Homo sapiens: one gene and its partners. The protein of the gene in region 4 purifies or fractionates together with the protein of the main gene of each other region. This does not show direct contact. Each region holds a gene or a part of one and is shown on either strand. Other genes may lie near its edges.

What was found.
Region 1: the proteins of KIF16B (region 4) and MON1B purify together in Homo sapiens (affinity purification with mass spectrometry; 2 studies listed by BioGRID and IntAct, with this or other methods). This does not show direct contact.
Region 2: the proteins of KIF16B (region 4) and CCZ1 purify together in Homo sapiens (affinity purification with mass spectrometry, with the first as the bait; 2 studies listed by BioGRID). This does not show direct contact.
Region 3: the proteins of KIF16B (region 4) and CCZ1B purify together in Homo sapiens (co-immunoprecipitation; 2 studies listed by IntAct). This does not show direct contact.

The regions. Positions count from the first base shown.
Region 1 is NC_000016.10:77,194,164-77,201,199, reverse strand, and holds part of MON1B (vacuolar fusion protein MON1 homolog B), read right to left. Parts: intron 6,866-7,036; coding exon 6,046-6,865; intron 5,666-6,045; coding exon 5,518-5,665; intron 3,093-5,517; coding exon 2,892-3,092; 3' UTR 1,749-2,891; coding exon of another isoform or gene 1,688-1,748; 3' UTR 1-1,687. Other genes in the region: SYCE1L (synaptonemal complex central element protein 1-like), read right to left, coding at 1,688-1,748.
Region 2 is NC_000007.14:5,894,856-5,901,751, reverse strand, and holds the start of CCZ1 (vacuolar fusion protein CCZ1 homolog), read right to left. Parts: upstream 3,020-6,896; 5' UTR 2,953-3,019; coding exon 2,833-2,952; intron 1,469-2,832; coding exon 1,371-1,468; intron 1,280-1,370; coding exon 1,186-1,279; intron 898-1,185; coding exon 820-897; intron 96-819; coding exon 48-95; intron 1-47. UniProt on the Homo sapiens protein: Acts in concert with MON1A, as a guanine exchange factor (GEF) for RAB7, promotes the exchange of GDP to GTP, converting it from an inactive GDP-bound form into an active GTP-bound form.
Region 3 is NC_000007.14:6,798,431-6,802,305, reverse strand, and holds the end of CCZ1B (vacuolar fusion protein CCZ1 homolog B), read left to right. Parts: intron 1-782; coding exon 783-941; intron 942-1,230; coding exon 1,231-1,358; intron 1,359-3,026; coding exon 3,027-3,082; 3' UTR 3,083-3,369; downstream 3,370-3,875. Other genes in the region: RSPH10B2 (radial spoke head 10 homolog B2), read right to left, coding at 3,763-3,875.
Region 4 is NC_000020.11:16,563,415-16,570,450, forward strand, and holds part of KIF16B (kinesin-like protein KIF16B), read right to left. Parts: intron 1-7,036. UniProt on the Homo sapiens protein: Plus end-directed microtubule-dependent motor protein involved in endosome transport and receptor recycling and degradation.

The DNA of each region.
Region 1 (7,036 bases), on a different chromosome or scaffold from region 4:
TCTCTGCTCTTGAAGTTATTTCATTGGTCACACATTAAAAAATTACTGAGCACTTACTTTACACCAAGCAGGCATTGTTTTAGGTGCAGGGGAGCGAGAGGTAAACAGTCTCTGTTCTCATGGAGCTCACATCCTAGGTCAGGCAATAAGCAATAATCATTACTTTGATGTCTGTATGGGTAGGTCTGGCAGGATGCAGTCTAATGTGTTTGTTAATACAGTGGTTTAAAGAGTGTGCAGAAAGGGGTGTTCGAGATAGATAAAAGTGGGGCAGAAAGGTGACAACAGTTAAAGCATACTGATAGGTACACATGGGCTTTGTTTAAAGCTATTTTCTCTACGTTGGTACACTTTGAATATTTCTATAACAAAAAAATGCTAGTGGCATACAAATGCATGACTGCCTTGGGAGATTTTTTTCTTTTTGTTTTTTCTTTTTTTTTTTTTTTTTTTGCTCACTCTGTCTTCCGCGCTGGAGTGCAGTGGCGCAATGTCAGCTCACGATAACCTCTGCCTCCCGGGTTCAAGCAATTCCCCTGCCTCAGCCTCCCCAGTAGCTGGGACTACAGGCGCCCGCCACCACACCCGGACAATTTTTGTATTTTTAGTAGAGACGAGGTTTCGCCATGCTGGCCAGGCTGGTCTCAAACTCCTGACCTCAGGTGACCCACCCGCCTCGGCCTTCCAAAGTGCTGGGATTACAGGCATAAGCCACCAAGCCCGGCCAAGGGAGAATTTTTTTTCTTTTGAGACGGAGTCTCACTCTGTCACCCAGGCTGGAGTGCAGTGACATGATCTCGGCTCACTGCAACCTCCGCCTCTCGGGTTCAAGTGATTCTCCTGCCTCAGCTTCCTGAGTAGCTGCGATTACAGGCCCACACCACCGCGCCCGGCTGATTAGTGTGTGTATATATATATATATATACACATATATATATATATACACATATACATATATATATATATACACACACATACATACATACATATAAATACACATACACACATATGTATATGTATATATAGTTTTTTAGTAGAGATGGTGTTTCACCATGTTGGTCAGGCTGGCCTCGAACTCCTAACCTCGTGATCCGCCCGCCTCGGCCTCCCAAAGTGCTGGGATTACAGGCGTGAGCCTCCGTGCCCGGCCTGAGATTTTTTTTTCTTTTGGATGGAATACAATTTCCAATAGTGTCTAGGCCGACACCCCTCCACCCTCCTTTGCCTGTCATTCAAGTCAATACCCTGGAGAAAAGAGGCTGTGGGGGAGGCCATGTTCGATTAGGAGGTTTAAGAGTCCATCAAAGTGTCATATGTGTTAGGTGTGAAATGGCGACACTGGGAATTACTGTTAATAAGGGGTGGCTGCAGCACGGTGATTGTTATGAGAACATCCCCACCGCCCCACTTTTGTTTGAAGACTTTCGTACTGAACTACATGTTGTTTACTTTCAACAACGTATACACTACAGTTGACAAAAGTTAATCTCGGTGATAAGAATATGCCTGTTAATTTATCTCCACTGTGCTGAACGGTTAAAAAATTGTTTTTCTTCAATAACAAAAGGCTTAACATTTTATTTAAAAAAATTAGAATATCATTATTTCATTATTGTAATGGGACGAATCCTCCCTCCTTTCTGCCCTGGTTGGAGAGAAAGGAGTGCAGCCCACTTGCCCTCACTACCTTCAGCCTCCTCAGTAGCTTCTGGCGCCTCCACATTCAGAGGTTTCAGCTTCCCCGCCATTTTCCAACGCGGGGCCTGCGCGCGAGCCTCGCTTGATGACTGGTTAAAAAAGAAACCACGTGAGGGTGAAAGGCTTTTCAGCACGCATGCGTGCAACCCGCGGTTACGCCAGCGGTTAAATCAGGAGTCAGCTCTGGGCAGGCGCAGAACACACTGCGGCCCTGATTGCCAGCACACATGCTACAACCTTGAGGCTGTAACTCCACAAACAAGGGCAGAACTAGGGTAATGGCCAGTTGGGGAGTGAGGGTAGTGTGCACACACACAAAACCCTAGGGAGGTCTCTCCTGCTTTAGGCTGCTTGTCTTGTGCAGGTTGTCAAAGTCTGGGACAGACGTGCATGTGCTATGTGGTGGTACACAATAGTTCGAGTCTGTTTTCGTTTACAAATCCTCATCAAAGAGTTCATGAGAGAGGGTTACTTATCTCTGTTTCACAGATGAGTAAAACGAGGCTTAGAGGCTAAGTGCATCTCCTATGTAAAAATGCTGGATTTCAGCCACTGTGTGCAGTCAGGTGCTGTGTCCTGGGTTCCACAGGTGGACACTGAAGGCCACCTTCTCATTAATGTTAGCAGCAGCCAGCATTGAGGGCGGGTCATTTCTGGCAGGGTAAAGATGAAAAAAGTACAAGAAGGGCAAAGGAATATCCTTGTGGGTCTTACTTTTAGGCCTTTTATGTAGTTTTTTTCTTTAAAATACCCTCAGGCCAGTCCCAAGCATAGCCTGGCCCTGAAGTGCCAATTCCAGCACCCCCGTGGGCCACCCTAGACACCTTGGCCAGATCTGGACACTCAGGGCTGAGATTCAACTAGGAGGCAGACCACGGAAGCAAGTTTGGAGGGGACAGTCCCTGACAGAGGCTAGAGCATCATCCAAGTGGAGGAGATGAGACAGAGGGAAGGGAGAGGGAGGCCTAAGGATTTCCCCAGAGGGGGAGGTGCATGACTGGGCAGGGAAAGCAGCCTGCTCGCCTGGCGGCTGCCACCATCTCTCTCATCGGTGGGCCCTCAGACCTTGCCCCATTGCTTAGGGAGACAATGACTGGCCACAGACACACCCCCACACACATTTCCAGGGTAGACAGAAGGTAAAAAACAAAGGTGGTTGCTCCCAGCACTGCCTGGTCTGGGAGCTCCAACTATCAGAGTCCAGTGAACAAGCCATTATGGGCAGCTTGGTCCGTAGAGGTGGCTGGTGGTGTGGAGTACTTGGGTGGGTAACGAATGAAGAGCCGGTCCTCCTCTTTCTTCACCCAGCGCAGGAGTTTGGTCACTACCAAGATTGCACCTGCCTTGGTCACCAGAGGGCTGAGGCAGGTATAGAGCTCGAATTTGGAGGTCACCTGGGGGTTTCGGAGGAGACAGAGTCAGATGGGCCAGAGCTGGCTATGGACAATCCTGCCTACCCCAGTGCAGCTGCATGTCTGCCTCCTGCAACCTGGAACATGTACCTGGCAGCACCTCCTACCAGGTGCTGCCTAGATACTGGGCTAAGGTAGGTAAGCTGATATTGTGCAATTTCAGCTGGACCTAGTGACTTCAACTGGATGATGCTGGTTGTGTGTGTGGGTACTCTCTAGACCTGTTTGCTCATTGGGAACTGGGGAAAACAGTAACAATGTTTAATATTCTGTCAGTAACCTATTGTGTACAAGGTCCTGCTCTAAGCTCCTACAACTATGTTTTCATCATCTACAGCCAGGGAATAATATAAAGAGGAACTCAATTTATGCCTCATACCACATGGAGAGGCCTGACCCCACAAGGTCACTAGCGCCTTTCCTGTGCCACCTCCCAGAGCGCTCCCCTTCACTCCCTCTGCTCCGGCCACTCTACCCTTTCCTTGCTATTCCTCAAACATAGCCAGGCTTGGTTCCACCTCATAGCATATCAGTCCTTTCCCTCTGCCAGGTGTACTCTTCCTCCTAATATCCACGTAGCTCAATACCTCCCTACTCCACTCAGATGCCATCTGCTCAGGGAGGCCACCCTGATCACTTGGTTTAAAATTCTGCTCCTAACATATATTTTGTTTGTTTTTGTTTTTTTGTTTTTGACGTAGAGTCTTACTCTGTTACCCAGGCTGGAGTGCAGTGGCACGGTCTCGGCTCACTGCAACCTCCGCCTGCCAGGTTCAAGCGATTCTCCTGCCTCAGCCTCCCGAGTAGCTGGGATACAAGCGCATGCCACCACATCCAGCTAATTTTTTGTATTTTTAGTAGAGATGGGGTTCCACCCTGTTGGCCAGGCTGGTCTCGAACTCCTGACCTTGTGACTCGCCGCCCACTCCCCCCAACTCCCACCCCGACTCAGCCTCCCAAAGTGCTGGGATTATAGGCGTGAGGCACCGTGTCTGGCCCATATCTTGGTTTTAAAATTCCAATCTCTACTAAAAGGTATAAGGGCTCCATGGAAAAATGGCTGAGTTGAGGACTGGAATAGAGAAAGTCAAGTAAGATGTGCTCACATAGTGAAGGGGACGTGTCAGAGACACAGGGATCAGCCTGGCTAAATCAGGGTACCCACCGGCTAAATCAGAGGCAATCTGAACACCAAAATAAATGCTAGAGAAGGATTTTAGCTCACTGAATTAAAGAAAAATCCATGAGACAATATTGATAGAAAATTAAAAATTCAATAAATAGGAGAAGGAAAAGTTATTCCTTTTTGTTTTTGAAATGGAGTCTTACTCTGTCGCCCAGGCTGGAGTGCAGTGGCGCGATCTTGGCTCACGGCAACCTCCACCTCCCAGGTTCAAGCGATTCTCCTGCCTCAGCCTTATGAATAGCTGGGACTACAGGTGCGCACCACCACGCCCAGCTAATTTTTGTATTTTTAGTAGAGACGGGGTTTTGCCATGTTTGCCAGGCTGGTCTCGAACTCCTGACCTCAAGTGATCAGCCTGCCTCAGCCTCCCAAAGTGCTGGGATTACAGGCGTGAGCCATCACGTCCGGCCCCATGTTACTCTTTATAGTAAAATCCCAGCCAATAAATGTAGAAAGAATGATGGAGTTAGGAAAACCACCATCTGACCAGGCGTGGTTTTCACCACGCCCTTTATAACTCTTTATAAATATAAATATAAAAACTCTTTATATTGTTTTTGCAGCTTCTAAGTCTAAAGTTATTTGAAAATGAAAGTTAAAAAAATTTAAAAACAAAATTCTTAGCCTAGGACAATACCTGATCCACAGCAGTCACGCAATAAATTAATAAATATGCATTACATGGCAGGTGCCATTTCTGATGAGGCCTCCTTCACTGGCCTCCCTTAGTAGCTGACCTTTAGCAAACCCATAGGAAGTGAGGGCTGGAGCCCAGAGGAGACCAAAGGGAAGGATACCCCAGGTGGAGGGCACAGCAAGGGACCACGCCTGTAGTCTGAGGAGTGCTGGGGACTCATGGAGTCACAATGAGCTGGTGATGAATGGGGTGCCTCCAAACACATGGATTGGGCTACTGGGGAATCGGCAGGCACAGCAGTGGTAGTTAATGGGGCCTCTGGAAAGTCAAAGACACTGTCCTGGTTGCTAATCTGGGAGAAGCACACAGGAGGGTGAGGCTAATGTCGGATTAGAGACACGGTCATTAGTTGTCAGGGGCTTCAAAGATGTGTGTGTAAAGGCAGGGACAGTGTTGCAGGCAAGGCACAGCCCAGCCAGAGGCCTGCTGTGTTTGGTGGAGGCACTGTGGCTGGAGGGGATACAATATAGGGAAAGGAGGCTTGAAGTGGGGAATTAATTCACTCAGAGCCCTGCCCAACTTACCCAGGCCAGTAGTGTCTCCTTCTCAGCCACGTGGTAAATGAGGCGCAGGGGTCGGGAGGTGCTGTGGAGACGAGCATGCAGGCGGTGGTACAGGTCCGACAGCCGCTGCCGCTCCTCCTCTCTGCTGTAGGGGGCCTCTAGCTCAGGGCTGCCATGATGGAGGGAGGTGGAGGACAAGGTTAGTCCAGGGCCTTCTTGGCTGGCCCATTTCCTCCCTCAGTCTAGAGATTTCAATGAAGTTAGGGAGCTGAGCCTCTCCCATGAGACTTGAGGATTCTCAGGGGTTGGAGGCTGACCTTCCCTCATCAAACTAGGAGATTCCCTGAGTACTAGGGCCCTGCTGTCCACCAGAAGAGGGGGATTCCTTTAGGTCTGTGGCTGATGCTCCATCATCAGACAGAGACTTGTTCTCTTCCCTCTTTCTTAAGCATGGCTGGTTATCTCTCCTGAGTCACATCCCTGAGATGCTGAACTTCCTGGTTTGACAGGCCTTCCCACCCAGCCAGTTGCCTTAGGGTCAGGGCCTACCTGGTAAACTGGGGCAGTTGGCGGTGGTGGTCAGGGATGTCCAGCGGCTTATACAGGAAGTGCCGGAGGCCCGGCGCCCCGACAGCCTGCACGCTGTAGGCAGGAGCACTGGCTGATGAGGCATTAGAGAAGCTGGCAGCCTCCCCAAGGGCACGCATGGCACCAAGGGCATGCATCCCATCTTCAACCAGGCGCCGGCAGGCGGCCATGGCATGGAAGGCTTCACGTTGGGTGCCAAGCAGCAGCAGGCAGACAGGCATAGCATCCAGGCGGGCCACGTAGGCGTAGAAAAAACCATCAGGGTTGAAGCGGGGCAGGCACACAGGTGCCCAAGCCTCACCCGCCGCAAAGGCTGGTGCACCCACCCAGTCGAGCAGCAACTGCAGGTCAGCTGGGTCCAGCCGGCACTCGGCCAGCACATTTCGCTCCTGGGCTGCTGTTATAAGTCGACCGCCTACTGCCAGCACTGACAGCGCCAGGCCAGGCGCTGTGCAACGTCGGAGGAGCGCACCTAGTGCGTCTCGCAGCGGGCGGGCAAGGGGCACACAGCGCACGGCACCCAGGAGCAGGGCTCCTGGGTCCTGCTCCATACTGTCCAGAAGTCGGTCCAGTGTGCGCTCTGAACCAGCCAGCAGGCGGCGGAGGTCATAGTTCTGCTTGTGTGCGAAGATGCGGGCGACACTTGCACGTGTAAGTGTGCTCACGATCTGTGCGTGCACAGCTAGCAGCTCCCCCCGCAGCTGGGCTGCTGACTGAGAAGTCCGTGACATGGCCACGAGCAACAGTGGGCCCTGTTGTAGGAACACCAGCTTGTGGTCCTCTAGGGAAGGAAGGGGTAAGAAGGGGGGGTACAGCTGGATCAGGAATGACCAGAGGGAGACAGTGGGGCTCTTCTGCCCTCTCCTACCATACACACACCAGGCCCGAGTCCACATGCTCACTCTGTGGGCACCTGGACTGGGGTAAGGACAAGCTGGAGGAATCTGGACAT
Region 2 (6,896 bases), on a different chromosome or scaffold from region 4:
AGGGGTAAGTGGCTGGACTCTGAGTTGAGAAAGAACGCCACGCTTACCTTGTACATGCTGTAGCACTGCCGCAGCACCGAGCTATAAACCTTGTCCTGCAGACGCGAAAACACAGCACACAGCTCAGTTCAAGGGAAAAACAATGTCTACTGGATAGATGGCAAAGGTACACTAACTCTTGGCCAAACAGTATAATGTTTATAAACTTTGTCCCACAATAGTTGCGTGCTGAAAAAAAAGTGTTTGCGTTCTTTTTTTTTTTTTTTTGAGATGGAGTCTCGCTCTGTTGTCCAGGCTGGAGCGCAGTGGTACAATCTTGGCTCACTGCAACATTTGCGTCCCCGGTTCAAGCGATTCTCCTGCCTCAGCCTCCTGAGAAGCCGGGATGACAGGTGTGCGCCACCATCCCTGGCCAGTTTTTGTAGTTTTAGTAGAGACAGGGTTCCGCCATATTGGCCAGGCTGGTCTCGGACCCCTGACCTCAAGTAATCTGCCTGCCTTGACCTCCCAAAGTACTAGGATTACAGGTGTGAGCCACTGTTCCCAGCCAGAAGTGTTTAAACTCTAATTTGTGAATCAGTAAGCCTTACTTTAGGAGGGCTTTCAATATAAATGAAGAGTAGAAGGTATTAGTGAGATTGGGTGCATATACATTTTAAAAAGATTGTGCTCATGTAAATGATAAACATAAACCTTTGCTATATACCCCGAGAAACTTCTGCAAAAGCCTCCTAGTTTAAATCCGACCAAGTAAGGCATTCAACATACTCAGCAATACATTTAAAAAAATAAATAAATAAACAAACAATGACACATTACCAACAACTCCTCCTCTTGATATTCAATAACTGGTTTTCCATCTTTACTCTGTTTTTCAATTATAGGATTCCGAACAACCTACAAAGTTTGATAAACTGAAATTATACAATGAATTCATTAGACCATGTTTATTTTGCCTTAATTTAAAAACTTTGAACATGCTACAGCATCAGAAACATAGCTTCTTAAAACAGCCCCAAGAATGAATAAAGCAAATAGGAAGAACTTGATTTTAAAATTGCAACCAATTTTATTTTAATTTTACTTGGATGCAACAGCCAGAGAACTTTCCTAAATTCTGAACAGTAAAGATCACCCATAACTTCACCATACAATTTCAGAAAGATACACTGTGTATGTAAATACCATGACCATCCAGAAATTTTCTTCTGGTTCATTGAAGAACTGTCTGTTCTTCTGTGTATGTAAAGATTTTGCAGGTTTTGATGGGCTAAATGTCCTACAAAGGTTAAAAAAATATGTTTGGGACAATTCTCCAGCAGCAGTTTTAAGAATTCACTGAACGCTAAAAGCACACTTAGAGGTATTACCTTGTAAACTGTACAATAGCTTCACACAATCCGACATTTCTAATCTTCTCATTCTTTTCTACCTCATTTGGATGATAAAATAAAATCTTATTTTCCTCCTGAAACATGAGGAAACAGAAGCACAACATGAATAGAAACATTTCATCTTAGCTATTGAAAACGCTAAGTTCAATGTCGACCTCTTGTGTCACACATGCTAATGACAAAACAAAACAAAAACCGGTTTTAGAAAAACAGGAATTGTAATCCTAGTATTTTCAGAGGCTGAGGCGGGAGGATCACTTGAGCTCAGGAGTTCAAGACCAGCATGGCAACACAGTGAGACGTCTCTATTATTTAAAATAAGAAGAAGAACAGGAATGATCTCATCATTGTGCAAATACTGCCCACCAGTCAGAAAGGCAATTTCGATAGTCAGTAAGTCACATCTGAAGTAGCACCAGGTAATTTTTATGAAAACTCAAGTCTCTAGGTTTCTTTCCTAGTGCTAATTTGTAATACACCAATGCTTGTAAGAAATAAAGGTGTGCCCATCTGCAGACACATAGCTCCCTGAAAATTAAATCCAGTCAGTTCCCAGCCATTTGAACTGACAAGTTGCTTTTTTTTCTTTTTCTGGAGATGGGGTCTGTGCTGCCCAGGCTGTAGTGCAGTGGCGCTATTACAGCTCACCTGCAGCCTCAATCACTTGGGCTCAAGCGATCCTCTGGCCTCAGCCTCCTGAGTAACTGGAAATACAGGTGCGTGCCACCACGCCCGGCTCACTTTTCAATTTTTTTTTTTTTTGTAGAGTTGGGGGTCTTGCTATGTTGCCCAGGCTGGTCTGGAACCCCTGGCCTCAAGCAATCCTCCCATCTCGGCCTCCTAAAGTGCTGGGATTACAGGCGTGAGTCACAGCGCCCAGCCTGGACAGTCTTTAACAGAAGTCTGACTTGCTGGAAACAAAACACAGCTCCGGACATCCTTTGAGAAAGTCGCCGTCCCCACCTCAGAAAAACCACACACACACACACACACACACACACACACACACACACACACACACACCCCCCTCCCGAAATTAATTTATTTCCTCATTTGGGCGAAAACTATTACAGGGACCTCCAGGCTTGCATCATTTGAAGGCTAGCGTCTGCCACCCTGGTTCCACGCTTCTAGTTGGGGACTACCCACTTAACAAAGCCAAGTTCAATTTTAATTTCCCAGAACTGACGCAAAGCAAAGCGCAAAGAGCCTCAACCTGGGGTGTGGAGTGATATAGACCCGACGGGGCTTTATTCCATCGACCTAGGACCTGAAGCGGTCCCTGCCTGCTGTCAGGTCCCCGCCGCAGCCCCCTGCCCGGACTCGCACCTGGCACAATGCAGGCTAGGTCAGTGCCCCTCGAGGTGGGCAGAACCACAGGGCCACCTTCCCGGGGAACACCGGCGCCGCCCGCCCGCGCGCCGCCCCCTCCGCATACCTGTCCTTCGCGCGGCCCGAAGCGCGGGTTGTAGATGAAGAAACTCAGCAGCGCCGGCGGGAACTGCTTCTCCTGGGCCGCCCAGGGCCCGCTCCCGGCCCCGGCCGCCGCTGCAGCCATCCCGCCCCGGCCCCCACCTCGGGAGCCTCCCACGGCCCGCCCAGAGACAGCAGCCACCGGCTAAAACACCGCACTTCCGCCTCCGTCGCCACCGCCCCGGAAGCGCTCGCCGCAGGCCCGGAAAAAGAATCCGCCTCGCAGCGTCCTCTTCAGGCACCCCCGGGTGGCTGTTTCCTGGCCGAGTTTGTGTTTTCCTGGCTCGCGGAGTTTTCTCCTGGCTACAGGCGAGGGCTGCGCGTTTCAGGAAAAACCGAGCGGGCACTGTTTTTTTTTTGTTGTTGTTTTTTCTGATAGGGTCTCAGTTTGTCATCCAGGCTGGAGTGTAGTGGCGCGATCTCAGCTCACTGCAGCCTCAACGTCCGAGACTCAAGCAATCCCCCTGCCTCAGCCTCCCAAGTAGCTAGGATTACAGGCGCGCGCCACCAAGGCCAGTTTTATTTTTTTGTAGAGGTGGGGTCTGTGTTGCCCAGGCTGCTCTCGAACTCCTGGCCTCAAATGGTCTCCCACTTCGGCCTCCCAAAGTGCTCCGATTACAGGCGTGAGACACCACCGCCCAGCCTGTTGTTGTTTTGGTGGTATTGTTTTAAATTTAATTTAGAGACAAGATCTCGCTTTGTCACCCAGGTTGCAGTGCAGTGGTGCCATCATAGCTCACTGCAGCCTCAACTCCTGGGCTCAAGGGATCTTCCCACCTCAGCCTGAGGAGTAGCTGAGACCACAGGCATGCACTACCATGCCCAGATAATTAAAAAATAGATAGATAGATAGTAGAGACAGGGTCTCACTTTGTTGCCCCGGCTGCTCTCTAACTCTTGGCATCAGGGGATCCTCCTGCCTCTGCTACTGGATGGAAGGTCTTGACCGTGGATTGCCCAGGTTCTTGGCTTGTTGAACACAGAACTGAACAAAATGCAATGCACAAAGTAACAAAAGAACAAAGCAACGAAAAGAAACAAAAGAAAAAACTGAAGTAAGGAAGAAACAGATTTATTGAAGCGAAAGTACAACTCACAGAGCAGGAGCAAGCTAGAGCAAACAGCTCAAGAGCCCCCATTAGGATTTTTATTAAGCTGGAAGAATTAGGTAACGCCCCTAGGTGCCCGTTAGAGGTCTCCGATTGGTTACACCCTCTGAAGGATTGGCCTGTGACCAATCAGAGGCTGAAGTGGAGACGCGCACCCGCCCCCCCCCCCCCCCCCGTCAATCAGAGGCTGTCACCCTCCCCCCCGCCCCCCCCCCCGTCGTCCATCAATCAGCCTCTGATTGAGGGAATGAACACGTGGCCTCTATGCTGCCTAATCTTGCCTAGAACTGGCTGCACCTGCTGTTCTTTTGTTTATGCCTTAACCCTTGGTTACCCTCATTCCCTATTCTGCCTCACCTGCCCTCCCAAAGTGCTGGGATTACAGATGTGAGCCACCCACACCAGGTCCATTGTTTTGTTTTTAGTTTATTTAAAAAGTATTTTATTCTAAAACAGCACTTTGCTCTGTTGCCCAGGCTGGATTGCAGTGGCCAGATCAGACGTCACTGCAGCCTGGAACTCCTGGGCTCAAGTGATCCTCCCACCTCAGCCTCCCGAATAGCTGGGACCACAGGTGCATGCCACCATGGCTGGCTAATTTTTAAATTTTTCGTAGAGCTGGGGTCTCACTATGTTAACCCAGGCTGGTCTCGAACTCCTGGACTCAAGTGATCCACTGGCCTTGGGCTCTCCAAGTGCTGGGATTGTAGGCATAAGCCCCTGTGCCATGGCAGTTTTTTTTGTAGAAGGAAATGTAGAGACACAAAGGAAGCCTCATTTAGAAATAAACAAGGCTAGCCACGGTGGCTCATAGCTGTAATCCCAGCACTTTGGGAGGCCAAGGTGGGTGGATCACTTGAGGCCCGGAGTTCCAGACCAGCCCCGTCTCTACTAAAATACAAAAAACTAGCCAGGCGTGGTGGCACATGCCTGTGGTTCCAGCTACTTGGGAGGCTTGAGGCAGAAGAATTACTTGAACCCAGTAGGTGGAGGTTGCAGTGAGCCAAGATTGCACCACTACACTCCAGCCTGGGCAACAGATCCAGACCCTGTCTCAACAAAAAAAAAAAAAAAAGAAAGAAAGAAAGAAGAAAAGAAAGAAAAGAAACACACTTAAGGGCAGATGTGCATTCCGTTTGGCCCATTAACATCATCTACAGAGTCCTTGTTTGAGAGACCTCAAGTGACCACTGGATCACCCACACCTACAAAGTTTGCCCCTTTCCCCCATTCCTTCAGCGCAGGTCTGGAGGCAGATGGGGCACCGTGTGTGCCACGGGAGCAATATCAGAGGTGGCAGACTCCCCAGAGTGGCTGTTCCTGGACCTTGCTGCCTGGGATTCCCTTGCCTTTGAGGTGTGTGGGTTGTGGCATAGTTGGGATGGCTTGTTACAGTTATGTGGATTCAAGCCTTGGCAGCATATGGTTTGACCAAGCTCAAGAAGACTTTGGTTTAGATTGCCTTATCTGTCACATATTAAGTTTGGAAGCAGAACCACTTCCCTTATCCAGCCTGGCAGAATAGACCACTTTTAGGGAAGTGATGAGTTGGAATTTGGACTGGAGACAGATCTGGGTACATATCCACTTTTGCCACTCACCGACTGCACCAATCTCCTTGCACCAAAGAAGAGATGGAGACTCTCTTGTCTGTATCTCTTATTTGGAAAATGGCTAATAGTAAATTCCTGCCAAGTGAGAGTTTCACTTGAAGAGTTAAATGGGACTATGAATGTGCATCAGGTGCCAGCACCTCATCATTATTTCATAAACGATTGCTACTGCTCCTTGCTATTGACTTTCCCAATTAGCTTGCTCTAGTGCATGAAATTATTCCATGAGAAATACATGTTTTGGCTGGGTGTGGTGGCTCATGCCTGTAATCCCAGCACTTTGGGAGGCCGAGGCTGGCAGATCACTTGAGGTCAGGAGTTTGAGGCCCAACATGGTGAAACATCGTCTCTACTAAAAAATAAAAATAAATAGCCATGCGTGGTGGCAGGTGCCTGTAGTCCCAGCTACTCGGGAGACCGAGGCAGGAGAATTGCTTGAACCTGGGAGGCGGAGGTTGCAGTGAGCTGAGATTGCGCCACTGCACTCCAGCAGCGGGATGGAGTGAGACTCTGCCTCAAAAAATAAATAAATAAATAAATAAATAAATAAATAAATAAAAATAAAGCACAAGGTGCTATACAAGTGAGTGAGATTAATATTTTATAGTATGAGTCACAGTTTCTCCCAGGATACCTCTGTGTCCTTGTACATGTTTGCCTCTCCCTTCCTCCCACATAGAATTCATTGCAGGAGGCATCGAAAGAGGGAGATGACAAAAAACAAAATTAAACATGCAGAGATCAAAGAAAAGAACATGCTTTTATGGTTTCAAAGTTAAGGATGCAAGAACGCTTAGAGCTCAATGCATCTGCCTCTCCAAACACAGTCCTTGGGTGTGGACGGGTACGAGGCAGGAGTGGTAGTGATGACAGATACCCGCATAGGTTTGGAGGTCTCAGAGGAGAGGGTGTGTGTGTCTTTCTCCCTGGGGAAGCTGGGGGAGGTGGTGAGCTTTGCAGAGTTCCCCTCTGGGTCCAGCATGGCTCAGTAACAGTAGAGTAACCAGGGAACAGGGGTATCTGGACGAGATATCCTTATTGTTCAGGAAGAAGCTGAATGATTTACTTGTGCATAAAAGGAATTCAGAGAAAGCCAGTGCTGAGAAGCCTCAAGGTCAGGACCAGGAGGAGGTAGCAGTGGCCCCTCAAGACCACGAGAGTAGAGAGGATTGAGGATGACTCTGTGTTCACTATTCGGACTGAGAATACTCCAGTCCCATCTGGGGCCTCGACTCTCTCCCCCAGCCTATGGTAAGAAGGGAGAAGAGGTTGCTTAATTACCTGACATAATTAAGATTCTGACTCCC
Region 3 (3,875 bases), on a different chromosome or scaffold from region 4:
CTCTGACCTGGGAGGCAGCGTCGTAGCACTGCCTAGTCAGTTTAAGAAATAAAAAGGTATATCCCATTTAAAATGTTCATCAGACTGCAGTGGAAAAGGCGACTGCGTTTTACAGTGATGTCCACTGGGGATGATATGAGGGAAAGCTTCGTTACATAGTGTCGTAGGCTTCCCTCATGAGGCAGGTTAATTTCCACGGGACACTCATTCCCCGCACTGTGGGAGGAACGAGGTGTTACTCTCCTCAAGCAGGGGTCAGCAGACTTTTACGGTAAAGGACCCAATAATAAGTATCTCAGATGTCACGGGCTATATGTAGATACGTGTTAAAACTACTCAACTATCATTTTGGTGGGAAAGCAGACAGACAGCACATGAACATGTGGCAATGGCGAGGTTCCCGTGAAACTTTGTTTAGAAAAAGAGGGCCAGGGCCGGGCGCGGGGGCTCACGCCTGTAATCCCTGCACTTTGGGAGGCCAAGGCGGGTGGATCACAAGGTCAGGAGATCGAGACCATCCTGGCCAACATGGTGAAACCCCGTCTCTACTAAAAATACAAAAATTAGCTGGGCGTGGTGGCGGGCGCCTGTAATCCCAGCTACTCAGGAGGCTGAGGCAGGAGAATCGCTTGAACCAGGGAGGCGGAGGTTGCAGTGAGCCGAGATCGTGTCACTGCACTCCAGCCTGGGCGACAGTAAGACTCCATCTCAAAAAAATTTTAAAAGAAGAATCTAGTTGTATCCGGCCCGAGTGCTACTGTCTTCGTGACATGTTTTCACAGGTCTGAGAAAGAACCCCAGTTTAAGTTTATCTACTTCAACCACATGAATCTCGCCGAGAAGAGCACAGTTCACATGAGGAAAACGCCCAGCGTGTCGCTCACTTCCGTGCACCCGGATTTAATGAAGATTCTCGGTGACATCAACAGTGACTTTACCAGGTGATTCCAGCCACTTCTCCAATCAGGCGTCCCCTTTCTAAGACGAGAAAAGACACAGAAAATCCCTTCAAGCCCTTTCCATGGGGTTCAAGCGTGAACCACCTTCATGGGCGCCGCTTCCAAACAGACCCGGGAGCCCTGAAGTCACCGGTTCCCTCGCGCGGCACTCCCTGAGCCTTTTAAATGCCACGTGCGCCCGTTCCATTTCCTGTTCTTGGTTTGGAACGCTTATTCTCACAGTCTGGCCGTATGAGTAACGAACAATTGCATTTTGACCCTCGTCTTGCAGAGTGGATGAAGATGAGGAGATCATTGTGAAGGCCATGAGTGATTACTGGGTTGTTGGAAAGAAGTCTGATCGGCGGGAGCTCTATGTTATTTTGAATCAAAAAAATGCAAACCTGATTGAAGTAAATGGTAAGTAGGATTTGGTATTTCAGGAGAATTTGAGAAGTTGTCTTTTCATTGCATTAAGAAACATGGTTAAAAAATAGGTAAATAGAACAAATCATGACTGTTGAGATTCTAAGCAGGTGCCTCTGCTCCACATTTGATCCATTTTCTGTTCCTTGGAAAACTATGACAAGACCTTCCTGTAGCACAGGAAACTTGGCAATGGCAGAAAGAAAATTATTTTCTACAATTCTAAAAAAAAAAAAAAATGACTTTATATTAAGAAATGTCCCCCTTTTTTTGGAGACAGGTTCTCACTTTGTCACACAGGCTGGAGTGCAGTGGTGCAATCATAGCTCACCACAGCCCCCAACTCCTAGGATCAAGCAGTCCTCCCACCTCAGCCTCTAGAGTAGCTGAGACCACAGGCATGTATCACCAAGGCATGTGTCACCAGACCCAGCTAATTTCTTTTTTTTTTTTGAAACAGAGTCTTGCTCTGTCGCACAGGCTGGGCTCAAACTCCAGGCCTCAAGTGATCCTCTGGCCTCCCAAAGAGCTGGGATTACAGGCGTGAGCCACCTTGCCCAGCCCAAAATGTCCTTTTTTAATATCCTGTGATAAAAACATATCTTTTGTAGGGAGAAGCTGCCGGGTTCACATAGCCGTTTACAAGTATCCCTCTGTACACAGGCAGAAGGAGGCAGACATTTTCTCCTGCCTTCCCGCCAAAGCGGCCAGCCTTGCCCACTGCACGGGGTGACCCGGCAGCTGCGGTGCTGATAGCTCGGCTGCCCTGGAGAGAGGGGACCTCACCTCGGCAGAGCTGCCCCCTTGGGAGATGCCCCACGTGTACACTGTGTGGAAATTCAGTGTAAGCGTTTTTTTCCCCTTGTATCTTGGGCATACTACATTTTTCTCTTTATTAGTAATACCTGTGTTAGTCATTGTGCGCACTAGAAACATCAGTTAATGCAAGCCTGATCTAAACTGTGAATGTGGTAAGATCAAAATCCTGACCCCTCTGCGGAGCACTTGGTCTGCAGCTCAAGGTTGCTGTCCGTTTCTTTGTTGTTCCATTAGTTGTCCCAGGATGACAACCTTGTGCTTGGTGTGTGTCACCAGCCTTGTGCTTCTAACCCCCTCCCCTGGGTGTCCCGGGCACTTTGCAGTTTCTCAGGCCCCGGGCAGCAGTGTTGATAGGCTCAAAACTCCTGAGGCCTGGTAGGTTTTGTAGGTGGATTTTTTCCCCTCTTCTACTTGTTAACATTTCTTGGCTGGGCACAGTGGTTCATGCCTGTAATCCCAGCACTTTGGGAGACCAAGGTGGGCGGATCACTTGAGGTTAGGAGTTCGAGACCAGCCTGGCCAACATGGCGAAACCCTGTCTCTACCAAAAAATACAAACATTAGCAGGGCGTGGTGGTGTGCACCTGTAGTCCCAGCTACTTGGGAGGCAGAGGCTGCAGTGAGCCAAGATCACACCACTACACTCCAGCCTGGGTGACAGAGCAAGACTCTGTCTCAAACAAAAAAAAAAAAAAAAAAATTCTTGCCTAGTCTTCTGGGATTTAAGGTCAAAATCAATGCAAATCTCTCTTCCTAATTTTACCCAAGAAGAATTTAATTATATATTATGTAACCTTTTAAGTGACTGCCTCTTCCTTCCTCACTGTTGTGTCCTTGTTGCAGAAGAGGTCAAGAAACTTTGTGCAACGCAGTTCAACAACATCTTCTTCTTGGATTGACGGATGACGGCTCACCGAGAGCATATCTAAAAAACACTCTGCAAACATTTGGTCACATGCAAGTTAGTGGTCATATGACGGACTGCATTCAGGACAAGGGTAAAGCAATACTTGCTTTGAAGAATCAGATTTCGACTCGGTCTGCTGATCTGAGGTTTTTAGATTTTAAATATTTATGTGGAATTAATTAAAGGTAGTTGGCTATATCGCTATCATTTCATTCTTTTGACATTATTTGAATATTTTACTGGAAAATAAGACTAATAAATTGTTAAAAGTTTTTAAAATTCTGGTTTGGTGTTGAGTCTCTCTCCTGCTGCCTATTTATAGATTACACTGGCCACCAGCTCCGTGACCCAGGCTGGAATGCAATGGCTCACTGCAGCCTCAACCTCCTGAGCTCAAGCAATCCTCCCACCTCAGCCTCCCAAGAAGCTAGAACCACATGTACACACCACCACGGTCGGCTGATGTTTTAATTTTGCAGAGATGGGGGGGTCTCACTATGTTGCCCAGGCTGGTCTCGAACTCCCGTAATCCAGCCATGTAGGAAACCTGAGATGCAGTGGGCCAAGGGGTATGTTAAAACACTGTGACGAGTTCAGTGCTAAGAACTGTAATGCTCAGGAAATCTTACAGCACGTGCCATCCTAAGCCTGTGTGTGTGTCCTCGTGTCTCTCTACTTTTTCTTCTTCTTGCTGGTGATGGTCTTGCTGGATGGGGACACGGTCACATCCTCCTTGGGAGGGTCCAGTATGAGGTGAGAGGATGACACGTCTGCCGGCTCCTTGA
Region 4 (7,036 bases):
TTTTCCCAGGCTACAGGTCTAAGTATAATTAACATATTCTCTTTCACAAAACAAGCTTCAGTAAGATGGCATCCCAATTCCAGAATCTGCAAAAACAGCCAAAGCTATCAAAATAACTTAGAAAAACAGTCAAGAAACAAGGAAGTATCACATCAATCAACTTTAGACCAAACTGCTATATATCACACAACTGGACATTTCTAAATAACTTCTCTCTCTCTGACAGGCAAAAAGAAACACATACACACTCGATCTCTGCCACTCCACTCTCTCCCACTCCACTCTCATGCTCACACAGTTTCCATGTTTAAAATAAAGCAACAGAAGTTTAAAACCAAATTATGTGACCCAAGTCACTCAAGAGCACCTTTTAAACTACTAATACACCTTGTATAAGTGTATTTTGCACACAAAGATATTTTAAAATATTGTATAAGGAAAAATACCAGACATTTGCATCATATTACTTATAAAGTTCACCTAAAAGAAAGAAAAAACTTCCATGCGCTCCCAACTCAAGGTGTCAGCAACAGCAGCAACTCTCCCCTCCTTTCTCTTTCCAGCCAGCAGCCCCTTCCCTCCCTTGCTCCTCCAGCCTTCTTTCACCAACCCCAAACTCCCTGTTTTCTTTTTCTCTTCTTCAAAACAAAAAGAGACAAACAAAAAAATCTGTCTTCTGCTGAGCCTGGGTTTGTCATGTCCAGGTAAGGGCTGGGATCCAGGGATGCAGACCAGGCCATGCCTCAAACATGGAGTAAAAAAGTTTCAAAAGATTACAGGAGTCCTTGCGGTAATTTGCTGAGAATGATGGTTTCCAGCTTCACCCATGTCCCTACAAAGGACAGGAACTCAACCTTTTTTATGGCTGCATAGTATTCCATGGTGTATATGTGCCACATTTTCTTAATCCAGTCTATCACTGTTGGACATTTGGCTTGGTTCCAAGTCTTTGCTATTGTGAATAGTGCCGCAATAAACATACGTGTGCATCGCAAGGACAAAAAACCAAACACCGCATGTTCTCACTCATAGGTGGGAATTGAACAATGAGAACACTTGGACACAGGAAGGGGAACATCACACACCGGGGCCTGTTGTGAGGTGGGGGGAGAGGGGAGGGATAGCATTAGGAGATATACCTAATGTTAAATGACGAGTTAATGGGTGCAGCACACCAACATGGCACATGTATACCATATGTAACTAACCTGCACGTTGTGCACATGTACCCTAAAACTTAAAGTATAATAAAAAAAAAAAAACTGAAAGAAAAAAAAGATTACAGGAGTCAACCTCTGCTTAGATGAACGGAAATGAGGCTCCCTCCTTCCTTTCATCTCTCCATTAACTGGAAGGGCAGCAACAGGCTACCTCCAATGCCCTCACAGCCCAATCACACTGCACAAGCCTCCCACAACCATGGCACTGCCTCCCACCCCTCCACAGACTTGAGCCCGACCACCTGACTGTGCAGCCTCTCACACTGGCGACCTTCCCTCCTCCCAAGCCTTGAGCCCCCTGGTCAGGCGTGACATTCTACTCTCCTGCCTTCCTCCCTTCCTCTCTCCATGCCCCTTCTCTCTCCAACTTGATCCTCCACTCCTACCTCCTGAAATCTGGCTGTCAGTAACCATAGTGAGTATAAAAGATAATAGTAACTATGATTTAGTGGACAGTTATTATATATTTATTTATTTCATCTGATCTCAACTACTTATACAGCATTATTTTATGGAAGTGGTTCTCAAATGTTGTGGCCTCAGGACGCTTTTATAGGCTTAAAAAATTACTGAGGAGGCTCAAGAGCTTTTATTAACATCAATTATATCTACTGATAGTTACCATGTTAGAAATTAAAACTGTGAAAATTTTAAACAAAATGCACAGCCCATAGAGCCGTGACATCATCACACACCATGTAGTTTCTGGAAAATTTGACTGTACCTTCATGAGAGAATGAAAAAATGGAATATAACATCTTAGTAGTACTGTGAAAACAGTTCTGACGTTGTGAACCCCCTATAAAAGAGTCTCACTGATACCCAGTTGTCCCTGGACCACACTTGGAGAATCACTGTTTTACAAAACAGAACCTGAGCCTTAAAGAGGAAAATCAACTTGCCCAGTCACTCGGCTAGCCCACTGAAGAGCTCCAGCCTGAACCCGGCTCATGCAGCACTGCTGTTACCCTTTCTCTTTCTGCTTTACCCTTCCTGAGAGACAGAATTCACTTCCACCACAGCAACTATCACCTTCCAGTGACCCATCTGCAAATGCGCATCCGCAGAGCTGATAACTCACCTGAGTTTCTACTGCCCGGAGTTCCCACCAGCACCCCGAAACAAATCAACAGACCAACACGCCCTTCTACCCACCCCAACCCGCGTAGGGCCAGCATCACTGCCTTTGGGAAAGGTCATTCTTCCACTTAATAAGGCCCCAAGCCACTCAGAGTCATCTTTGACTCCCCACTTCTCTATGTCCTGCTGACTGGTCTTTAGAATGTCTCTTGCAACTGCAAAAAGCAGGATATAGAAGTGTGTACATGACGACGTTCCTACACAAACAGGAAAAAGACTAGGTGCAAACGCACCAAAAGTTTATGAGTAGTTAGCTCCAGATCGTGGGATTATGAGCAATTTGCGATTTGATTTCTTCGGTATATTTTTCTGCATAACACATACGTTTCATAAGCATACATTATTTTCATAATCAGAAAATACAGTGATTGCTTCTTCAGGGCTTTGTTTATAAGTTTTGTCCCTTGCCTCTGCCTTTTCCAATTATAACCATGCCCAGAATCCAATCGCCATGGGTCATATTTCAGTTCTCTTTACTGTCTTCCTGCACTGGTTGTCAGCACTCAGACAGACATCTTGAACCTCAGTCTTGCGTCACGGAGTGGTGGCAGGAAAGTCAGGGAGATAATAATGCATAAAAGGCACTTTGCACAGCCCTTGGCAAATGGTAAATAAAAGTTCACCATTACTGGTGCTAGTATTATTATTTCCCTACACTACTATTAGATGAAACTTCAGAAAACACTAATTGGCGAAAGACAGCCCTGTTTTAGAACCATCAGTAGCTCACAATGCCTAATAATATACCTGATATTTACAGAACGCTTACTTTTGGGCCCAGCACTGTACGAAATGCTACCTCATTAAATTACCATTCCAGCCCCACGAGGTGGGTCCTATGGAGATCTCCATTTTACAGATGAAGAAACTGAGGCACAGACATGTTCAATAAAGTGCCAAGGTATGGAGGTAGAAAGTAAAAGAGCTGGAATTCAAGCCTTTATTCAGACTTGCTGCACAAGAGAATTTTCCAGGATGGTGGATATATTTATATCTACATTATTGAATATGTGTCTGTTGAGCATTTGAAATGTGCCTAATGCAATTAACTAAAATCCTTTTTTTATTTTATTTTATGTTAACTTAAATAGTCACATAGGTGGCCGACAGTTATACTGGCCAGCATAGGGATCTAGAGATCAAAAACCCAAATGCCCAGGCTTCACAAAGAAAAGTCCTCACAACACCCTGTCTACCTGCCTTGCAACTAATTCTTACAAAATCTTCAATTTGTCTAAAATCATTAGTGAAATAAACATGTTCCTACCTTCCAACCACCCCCTGCCCACCTCTCAACTAAGTCTTCTGTATAATGAAAGGACTTTAGGAAGTTAGAGTAGGGGAGACTTGGATTCAAATCCAGCATCATAGTATCTAGCTATGTGACCTTGGGCGGTCTTATTTCTTATTTCTGAATAAGAGACCTCCTTATTACAGTCTCTGAGCCCTTGTTCCTCATCTGTAGAATGGGCTGACAATGCCAACTTCCAAAGAGTATCAGCCAAGCACCTAACAGAAATTATCTATATGGTCGCTGGCAATATCCCTTCAGGGCTCAACTCAAGTTCCACCCTCTTATCTAAAGAGATGGCAGAAGCACTGGAGATCTCTTCCTCTAGCCTCTAGAATCCCCTAGAGGTTCCATCTCAACCGTACACAGATTCTATTGTTATTTTTGTGTGTTGTGTATTCTCTGATCGGCATTTCCCTGAGGCCATGGGCTTCTGTCATCTGTAAGCCCAGAGGCAACGTCACTACATAAAGGGCTCTGAAGGGAACCGAAGCAGCTGGCTCAACCCAGCATTATTATCTGAGGGGTCTCAGTCTCCCCTGGCTTTTATAGGTCAGTCAATTGGTGAGAGGAGGAAATGCAATTGCCAAGGTAAAGAAATAAGCATAGGGCTGGCAGCTCACGCCTGTAATACCAGCACTTGGGGAGGCTGAGGCGGGCGGATCATGAGGTCGGGAGATCAAGACCATCCTGGCTAACACAGTGAAACCCTGTCTCTACTAAAAATACAAACAAAATTAGCCGGGCGTGGTGGCGGGCGCCTGTAGTCCCAGCTACTCGGGAGGCTGAGGCAGGAGAATGGCATGAACCCGGGAGGCGGAGCTTGCAGTGAACCGAGATCGCGCCACTGCACTCCAGCCTGGGCAACAGAGCGAGACTTCGTCTCAAAAAAAAGAAATAAGTGTAGTACCTGGTACCTGGCAGTGCCTTGACAGATACTTCCCGTCCTTAATACAAGACATGTCTGTCCTCATCATCACAGACCTAAGAGGCTAACCATGAACTACTTTCCCTTTGACCTATCTTCTTTTTAAAAGAGGAAGACGTCAGTACACCCTAAAGATATCAAATCCAGGCAAAATGCCACTGGTGGTTTTTTTTCTTCTTTTTCTCTCCTGAACTTGATAGACTTGATACTAGATTCTACCTGAGAGGCTAATCAGGAAGAAAGGCTAGGAACAGTCAGAAAAGAGAAAGAATGGGGTGGATTTGCCCTATCAGATAAGCAAGCACATTATACAACATAGCTATAAAGCTGGCACATCACCAGCACTCAGTAAATATTTTTTGGCATTTTTTAAATACTTGTTTTTGAATAAAGTTACAATTATTAAACTGTAAAAATAATAGTAATGACAACAAGCACTCTTCAGGGAGCCCCTGCTGAATGCCAGGCTCTGTGTGGAGAGCTTTATCCACATGCGTTATCTCACTTGAACCCACAACAGTGTTTTTCACACCCAACTGCAGCTCTTTCGTGGATCACACCTGTAATCCCAGCATTCTGGGAGGCCAAGGTGGGAGGATCACTTGAGCCCAGGAGTTTGAGACCAGCCTGGGCGACACAGGGAGACCCCGTCTCTACAAATAATTTTAAAAATTAGCCAAGTGTGGTGGTGTGCACCAATAGTCCCAGCTACTCAGGAGCCTGAGGCAGGGAGATCACCTGAGCCCACCAGGAGGTTGAGGCTTCAGTGAGCCACGACTCTGCGCCACTGCACTCTAGCCTAGACAACAGGGTAAGACCCTGTCTCAAAAAAAAAAAAAAAAAAAAAAAAAAAAAAAAAGGCATAGCTGTGACTGTCTTAAGAAACTGACTTTGACTTTGAGCAAGTTAACTATGTGCTATGATCTGAATGTTTGTCTCCCCCTAAAATTCAAATATTGAAACCTAACCCCTCACTGAGATAGTATTAAGAGGTAGGGCCTTTGGGAGGTGATTAGGTCATGAGGTCCTTGTGAATGGGATTAGTACCCTTATAAAACAGGCCCAAGGGAGTCTGTTTGCTCCTGCCACGTGAGTACACAGCAAGAACCTACCATGTATGAGGACCTGGCTCTCAGAAGACAGCCAGACAGCCTATCTGCTGGCACCTTGATCTTGGATATCCCAAGCTTCAGAACTACGAGAAGTAAATGCTTGTTGTTTATAAGCCACCCAGTTTACAGTATTTTGTTAGAGCAGTCCAAACACACTAAGAAACTCTGTCTCCCAATCTGTAAAATGGCATAACAATAATGTCTCTACCTGCCAAGATGGCTGCAAAGATTAAACTGGATTTTGTACCTGGAGCTAGGACCAGAGAGTCTGGCACAGAGTCAAGTCTCAATAAAGGTGGCTACCATTTTGCCTACGTAACAGAATCACTTCCGCATTTGAAATGAGTATTACTGCCACATAATTGAAAGCCATAAGGCAATAAAAATAAACTCATCACATCTTGGCCTGAATCAAGCACTCATATTCCTTACAAGGCTGACTGATTACTGCAAAGGCCCCTAGTTTAGAAACTCAGTCAAACTCAATACTCCACCACCAGCAGTCCTTACTTTCCAATAACTCTGGGACTTGTTTTTCTGTAGGTTGCTTTCCCTTTGCCTGAGGCTCCACTACTCTAAAAATAAACATTAAAAACATTAACAACTTCCTTCAATCCTCCTCACAACCAACTGAAACTTCTCCAGTGCCAATGAATTTTGTAGGTGACTTTTTAAAATTACCTAAATAAGCACTGCTGGGTTAATAATTAATTCTAAGTATTAATTATAAAACTACGCATGAGGAAAGTAAAAACAAACAGTAAAAAAAAAGCCTTTCATCTTTGCCTAATGGATTCATCATCAGTCCTCCTCTTTAGAGGTATCAGTGTTAGGTTTCTTACAAACCATTACATATAGATGAATCTGTGTGTGTGTGTGTGTGTGTGTGTACATTTGTTAGCACACACAAACACACAACTTTACTCCACTGTGGATATCTTGCTTTTCTCAATCCTCTACCTTGGAACTCTTTTAAGATCAACACCCTCTTTTTAAGACTTGCATAATAATCCACCAAATGATTTACGCTATAACTTAACAAATTTCCCAATTTTGTATATTAAGGTCACTTATGATTTTTTGTTATCAATGATGATGCAAAAATCATCATCTTTACACATATATCTTTGTAGGCAGCAATATAATCCATATAATAAAAATTAGAAATTAGAAAAAGTAGAAATGAAATGGTCAAATCAAAAAGTTTATAGATTTCCAATTTTTTAAGGGAAGCATTTTCTGCTTAAGTATACAGATTTCTAATCTTGACAGCTACTGTCAAATTTCCCAATATGAAAGTTTCAGATGTTTTGATCCCTTATGCTTCCGTGATCAATGCAGAGGC